2 linked regions of the Homo sapiens genome follow. The protein of the gene in region 2 purifies or fractionates together with the protein of the main gene of each other region. This does not show direct contact. Each region holds a gene or a part of one and is shown on either strand. Other genes may lie near its edges. The genes, in order: RIC8B and ABHD8.

What was found.
Region 1: the proteins of ABHD8 (region 2) and RIC8B purify together in Homo sapiens (affinity purification with mass spectrometry; one large-scale study listed by BioGRID and IntAct). This does not show direct contact.

Annotation. Positions count from the first base shown.
Region 1 is NC_000012.12:106,882,444-106,886,261, reverse strand, and holds part of RIC8B (chaperone Ric-8B), read right to left. Parts: exon of another isoform or gene 818-3,818; intron 359-817; coding exon 247-358; 3' UTR 1-246.
Region 2 is NC_000019.10:17,293,403-17,297,220, reverse strand, and holds part of ABHD8 (protein ABHD8), read left to right. Parts: intron 1-2,375; coding exon 2,376-2,546; intron 2,547-2,716; coding exon 2,717-2,933; intron 2,934-3,818. UniProt on the Homo sapiens protein: Negatively regulates NLRP3-driven inflammation. Promotes NLRP3 degradation through the chaperone-mediated autophagy (CMA) pathway, hence attenuating inflammasome activation and IL1B secretion.

The sequences.
Region 1 (3,818 bases), on a different chromosome or scaffold from region 2:
ATGAAATGGAATTTTTTTTCTGCTTTTAGCCCCCGTAACCCCGTCTAACTGCAGCTCTGTATGAATGCCTCAATATCACAAAAAACACAGGGTCACCTCTTAAATATGCTGGATTCTCAATGAGTAAACCAGTTAATGTGTTTCTAGCCAAAGCAAGGGCATAAATGTTTTAGAGAAAAGATTCCCCTGGAGCTACAGAGAAAAGATGCTGATAAAGCAATATTGAGAGTTGAGCAGGTGATGCTTTTAGTCTGTGTCAGAGCTGGTCTCTTCGATGACAGAGTACTGGTTGAGTGCTTCCTCCAAAGGCGTTATTGTCCCATCAGGTTTTAGTCCCATTGGTTTAAGCAACTCCTCTCTAGAAAAAGAGATAAAAGAGAGAGAAAAAAAAGTATTCACCAGCATCACACACACACCCCTCCCCCCCACCCAAATCCACAACCTTTTAAAAAGAAAAGTCTTTAAAAACCAAAGTATTTTCCCTTGAGCTTTCTCTGTGTGTTTGTAATAGGAAAGATGAAAGGGGCATGGAAAGAAAAAGAGGGAAGAGGGAGATAAAAGACTTCATTCACACAGGCCAAACCTACTAAGCCAATTAAAAGTATGAAAAGTCAAGGTCTAAATGGGCTCAGGACAAGGAGCAGGTCTCTTCTGTTTTGAATAATTAACCTTTTTTTTTTTTTTTGGTGGATTGGTTTTGTTTTAGACAAGTTGAAGCTGCCAAAATTTCACCTGCCCCAGTGGTTGGAGCATACAATTAAATGGCTGATTTGATATGCATACACTTCATTCAATGGAATAAATCTGTCGGTTTTGATTTTGCCTCAGTCTCTAGTGATATGTAAGTACATGTTGATTCATTTCAAATTAGTTGGCCTTCCCCAACTCTCTCCCCGACTTTTCTTTCCTTCTCTCTCTCTCTTTCACTCTTTCTTTCCTCCTCCTCCTCCTTTCTAAAAAACACCATTGCTTTTGTTTGTGGCAGTTTAATTATGGGATTGACAGCCATTTTAATCTCTTCAAAGCTCCGCAACTGCCGCTTTTCAGCTAATCCAATTATATCTACTCCACAAGTTACAGCCTCATCTAAAGATGATTAATTATTGATTAAGCCAGTCAAAAAGCATTAGGAAAGATTTATTTAATCTTTTCATAGGCTCTTATTTATTACATGGAGATTATGGTGAATGTACCTGTTGAGTTGCTAACTCCAGTCCTCCCATCCCTAGAAAGGTCAGCAGTGTACTTAAGAGTGGCCTTGAAGAGCCCCATGAACTGCTTAAAACTTATTTATCACAGAAATGGGCATCACCCCCCAAAAACATGTCCATAAGCAAAAACCCACATGGCAGCAGCTATAATGTTGGTGGGATTTGGATGGAGGGGAAATGACTCCCTCCTCACAGTTGTCCCTTAGGCCAACAGAAAGAAGGGCTCCCTCCTGGGAAGGGGCAGCCACACAGTAGTGTAATGGTGTTACAGACACAGTGAAATCTCCTGGGGAGGAGTGAGAACAGCTCAGTGGTCAATGGATAAGCCAACAGGAGCCTAATGAAGAGCTCTGGCTAGCTCAGTAGACAACTTCGAAGTGTTTGAAAGCTTTGCTTGGGAAATGTGAACGTCTGACAGGCTAAATTGAGGCTCCTGAATACTATGAGGGAGGAAATGTGTTTCCCAATCCAAGAAATGGGGTCAGAATCATAGAACTTAAAGTTGGAAGGGGTCTGAGAGATCATTTAGTCCAACCCCCTTCTTTAATAAAGGAGACTGAATGACTCATCCAAGGTCACTTATCTAGTGGCAGAGCTGGACCTGGGACATGGGTCTCCTGAATCCTAGTCCAGTGATCTTTGCAGCCCACCACATCTGGATTAATTGCCCTAACTGCATTGGAGGAGCACACTGAGTTCATGTCTTCAACATCTGTTCAATGACTATGTGACAGGAACTATGTCATATACTGGGAGGTAAGGAAGACTGGGTACAGCTGCTGCCTTTGAGGAGCACGGAAAACAAATATATGCAAAAGTCATTTTGAGCAGAATGAGGTAAATGCTGTAAGAGAATTATGAACAAAGAAGTGAGGCAGCTCCTGAGATGAAGCACTGACCAGGCTGCCTGGGGAGGGCACTGTCAAGTGAGGTGTCAGTGAGTGGCCCTGCACTAGGCAGATGGGCACAGAGCATTTCAGATAAAAGAGACTGTAAAGAGCTCTGAATGGTCCCACTGACGTGTGTGATTCTCTATCTTTTTAAACCTTTTTGGATTGTGTCAGCTCATCTTTTCTATCTCTGTGCTCTCATGAAGCCGGGAAAGGGCCCAGTGTTTGGGGAATGGTGAGGTTCAATGAAGGAGGGGCAGGAGGTAAGGCTGCAAGGGTAGTTTGGGATGCAATAGTCAAAAATGTCTTAAATGCCAAAATAAGGAGTTTAGATTTTACCCTATAAAGAGTGTTTGATTACGTTTGTTTTATAAGAAAGTACCTCTGGCAGCAGCATGATAGACACATTGGAATTGGTGGCAGATAGACAAGTCATTAGGGGGGTCATCATAATAGTGTGTGGGGGAGGAGACAGACAGCTGGATTAAGTCTGAGGTTGTGGGAAGAAAAGGCAACATTTCTGAGGTAGATCTCATGACTCACTGGGAGGAAAAGGGGTTGGAGAATGAGAGTAGTAAGTAGAGAGTTCCTGTTGTTTCAGCTCAGATGACCAAGTGGATGGTGACTCTATTCAATGGGGCCAGGACATAGGAGATGGAGATTTGGTGGGGAGATTCTGATATATTTTAGGACTTGAAGGGCTTGAGGTGCCTACATGACAACCATGTAGAAATGTTCAGTGGAGAGCTAGAAACAACGTTTCCATTAAAACTTCTCTCTAGCACTGACGTAAATTACATACCTATATTTTAAATAAATTCCTAGTTCTGATTGTGCTAAAGGACTTTGTGATGTTGGACACTACATATTAACAACTGAAGCAAAAGGAGAAGAGGGAGAACCTGCTGGGAATGAAACACTGAGGGTCTGAAGGGGTTGGTAAACTCAGGTGTGGGGTGGGGACTGAAGGGTAGGGATAGGTAAAAGTAGGATTGGCAGATGGGACTGAGTGATAAACTGCTGGGTGGATATACCATCACTCCTGAGACTAAAACTACTGCATCTCTTTGATAAAAAGATGATTCTGGGGCTAGCTACTAACTTGTGTGAAGTATCTAGCACTTTCTCATCTAAACCCAGAAGTAATATTTTCAAATAAGTCTATCAGCTTTACCCTTGCTCCCTAATCCAATTATGCAAATAATTAAAAATATTAGTTTTATGGCCAAATTATAGGATTTCATTATGGAACAACGGGCCTATATTTTAATTCTTACTTGTGAACTATTCTCAAGCATTTACTTTCTGGGTGCTTTGTATCAACCCCCACTAAAATGGAAGCTCCTCTGAAGGTATGAATTATTTTCTTCTCCACATGGCTCTACGTAATGCCTGGGCTCATTGATACTTCTGTAGGAAAGGTGTCAGTGAACACTGGCCATACAATCATGCATTGTGCAAATGAATTAAGGCAGCAATGTGATGTCATGGAAAGAAAAAAAAGATCTGGAGTCAGGAAGTCTGTCTGAAGTCCTGGTTCTCCTCCACTTACCAGCTGTGTGATCTTGGGCAAGCTTCCGAGTCTCAGTTTCCCTACCAGTGAAATGGGGGTCGTGATAATCTTGGCTGTACCTACTGACTAGTGAAGATGTAAGTAGTGGTAGTAATAATAATAATAATAATAAGGTAGACCAAAGAGTTGTGAATTGTACAGAAC
Region 2 (3,818 bases):
GGAATGTGGAGGCTGAAGCTCAGAGAGGTGAAGCAACCTGCCCAAAGGCATACAGGAAGTCCCTGACACAATCAGGTCTGCCTGACTCCTGTCTGTATCCTTTCCTCATTACAGCAGGGGCTGGCAAACATTTCCTTAAAGGATCGGATAGCGAATATTTTAGGTTTGCAGGCCATACAGTCACTGTTGGAACTTCTGATAAAACTTTATTTAGGAAACATTTTTTGGCCAGGCACGGTGGCTCACGCCTCTAATCCCAGCACTTTGGGAGGCCAAGGTGGGCAGATCACCTGAGGTCGGGAGTTCAAGACCAGCCTGACTAACACGGTGAAACCCCGTCTCTACTAAAAATACAAAAATTAGCCGGGCATAATGGCAGATGCCTGTAATCCCAGCTACTCGGGAGGCTGAGACAGGAGAATCACTTGAACCCGGGAGGCGGAGGTTGCAGTGAGCCGAGATCGCGCCACTGTGCTCCAGCGTGGGCAACAGAGCAGGACTCCATCTCAAAAAAAAAAAAAAAAACCTTATTTAGGAAACATTTTTCAAATCTCCAAAAGTGTAAACTGTATTTAAAAAAGCAAATGACTAGCCCACAGGCCGTACATAGTTTGTTGACCCCTGCTTTTGTAGGAATGAGGAGCTCAGCTTTGGGGGCTTCTCAGGCCTTCCATCTTGTATAAGGAAGACAGATATGTCATGCCCAGAGGCAGGTGGCAGAACATCCTGAAAGGGAAGGGATAGTAGGAAACAGTGACCTCCCCTGGGCAGCCGGAAGCATTTGTTTAATCAGATTGCTTTCCTACCACTTGCTGATGAGTAATTCTTACCGCTTTTGGGTCATGGTGGCTTGAAGAATCTGATGAGGGCCGGGCACAGTGGCTCATATCTATAATCTTAACACTTTGGAAGGCCAAGGTGGAAGGATCACTTGAGCCCAGAAGTTCAAGACCAGCCTGGGCAACATAGTGAGACCCCCATCTCTACAAAAATTTTAAACAATTAAAATAAAAAGTCTGGTGAAACTTCTGGATCCAGATTCTCTCTTCAAAATAAGTTCCATCCTCAACACTCAAACTCACACTTTCACGGTATTTGAGAGGCCGCACTCATCCCTCACCCCTTCAGGTGTCCATGGACCCCAGGGGAAGAATCTTGGCTTCCAAGGACCTGCCTTCTGGGTAGGGGGAGGACATGAACCCCCTCACCAGGCCGGGTGTCACGGCTCACGCCTATAATCCCAGCACTTTGGGAGGTTAAGGCCAGAGGATCACTTGAGCCCAGGAGTTCAAGACCAGCCTGGGCAACATAAGGAGACCCTGTCTTTATAAAAAAATTTTTAAAAATTAGCTGAGCATGGTGGCACATGCCTGTAGTCCCAGCTATTCAGAAGGCTGAGGTGGGAGGATCTCTTGAGCCCAGGAAGTCAAGGCTGCAGGGAGCTATGATTACGCCACCGCACCACTCCAGCCTAGGCGACAGCGAAACCTTGTCTCAAAAACAAAAACAAAACAGGCCAGCCCAGTGGCTCATGCCTGTAATCCCCGCACTTTGGGAAGCCAAGGTGGGTGGATCACTTGAGGTCAGGAGTTCTCGACCAGCCTGAGCAACATGCTGAAACCCTGTGTCTACTAAAAAATACAAAAATTAGCCAGGTGTGGTGGTGCATGCCTGTACTCCCAGCTACTCGGGAGGCTGAGGAAGGAGAATCAGTTGAACCCAGGAGGCAGAGGTTGCAGTGAGCTGAGATTGCATCACTGTACTCCAACCTGGGCAACAGAATGAGACTCCATCTCAAAAACAAAAACAAACCAGGCCAGGCGCAGTGGCTCAGGCCTGTAATCCCAGCACTTTGGGAGGCCGAGGCGGATGGATCACTTGAGGTCAGGAATTTGAGACCAGCCCGACCAACATGGTGAAACCCCATCTCTACTAAAAATACAAAAAATTAGCCGGGCGCGGTGGCGGGCGCCTGTAGTCCCAGCTACTCGGGAGGCTGAGGCAGGAGAATGGCGTGAACCCGGGAAGCGGAGCTTGCAGTGAGCCGAGATTGCGCCACTGCAGTCCGCAGTCCGGCCTGGGCGACAGAGCGAGACTCCGTCTCAAAAAAAAAAAAAAAAAAAAAAAAAATTACCTGGGTGTGGTGGTGTGCGCCTGCAATCTCAGCTACTCGGGAGACTGAGGCAGGAGAATCGCTTGAACCTGGGAGGCAGAGGTTGCAGTGAGCCAAGATGGAGCCACTGCATTCCAGCCTGGGGGACAGAGTAAAACTGTCTCAAACAAAAACAAAAACAAAGCAAAACAAAATGGTCACTGCTTGTATCCTGCTGACCGCCTCCCTTCAATCCTCCTATCACCCCACCCGTTCCGGGCAGTGTCTCTTTCTGCACATTCCTGGCACATGAGTACCCAGACCTAGTGCACAAGGTGATCATGATCAATGGCGGGGGCCCTACGGCGCTGGAGCCCAGCTTCTGCTCAATCTTCAACATGCCCACCTGCGTCCTGCACTGCTTGTCGCCCTGCCTGGCCTGGAGCTTCCTCAAGTGAGTGTCCCCACCCCAAAGACCGTGATCCTGGCCCTGGCGAACCCAGGCATCTGCTCGAGTTGGATGGGAGGGGGGACTGTACCGCTGGGACTAGGGCTGGCATCGGGGGCACCCCACGGCAGTCGGGCTGGCATAAGGGGCTCTAGCGGTGCCTCCACCACCACCAGGGCCGGCTTCGCCCGCCAAGGAGCCAAGGAGAAGCAGCTGTTAAAGGAGGGCAACGCTTTCAACGTGTCATCCTTCGTACTCCGGGCCATGATGAGCGGCCAGTACTGGCCCGAGGGCGACGAGGTCTACCACGCCGAGCTCACCGTGCCCGTCCTGCTTGTCCACGGCATGCACGATAAGTTTGTGCCGGTGGAGGAAGACCAGCGCATGGCCGAGGTAGAGGCGGGCACCTGGGGCGCCACAGCTACAAATCCCCAGGGTGCTGCCCGGGAGGGGCGTGGCCTCTGCGGGGGGCGTGGTAGCGCTTGGTGGGCGTGCTTTCTTCCCGAGGGGGCGTGGCTGCCGGGTGGGCGTGGCCTCTAGTTGCTGTATCTTGTTCTGACCCCAGGCAAACAGGAGCATTAGGTCTAGCATCAGAAGTAGAATCTAGAAAGCAGGGCTGCCCTGGACAGGTGTTAGCAATTACGCACTGTCCCCACCGCTGTAAGAAGGCTCTCCTCACAGCGGAGGATTTGTATGAGACCGGTGACCTATATAATTCTAGAAGACCGGCACCAGGGGATCTTTAGATTAGAAACTCTAATTAGCGAGTTCAGATTAGAAAGGGTCTGGGGATCCTTAGCACTTAGAATAGCCCTGGATACTAGCCCGGCGAGGTGGTTCACGCCAATAATCGCTGCAACTTGGGAGGCTGAGTGGGGCGGATCGCTTGAACCCAGGAGTTCAAGGCTGTGGTGAGCCATGCTCGCACCACTGCACTCCAGCCTGGGCGACAGAGCAAGACCCCGTTTCTTAAAGAAAAAAAAAAAAAAACAAAAACCATTAAAGTATAACTGGACTGGTGGTTCTTAACTAAGGAGGATTCTGCCCCCAAGGAACACGTGGAAATGCATGGAGACATTTTTAGGTGTCACGACTGAGGGGGAGGGGGTACTACTGGCATCTAGTGGGTGGAGGCCAGGGATGCTGCTCAACACCCTACAAATGCACAGGATAGCAGCCCCCACCCCAGCTACCCGCCCCTTCCCCGCCCACCCCCGCCCCCCCAGCAAAGAATGATCCAGCTCCTAATGTTGGTAGAGTTGAAGTTGACAAAATCCT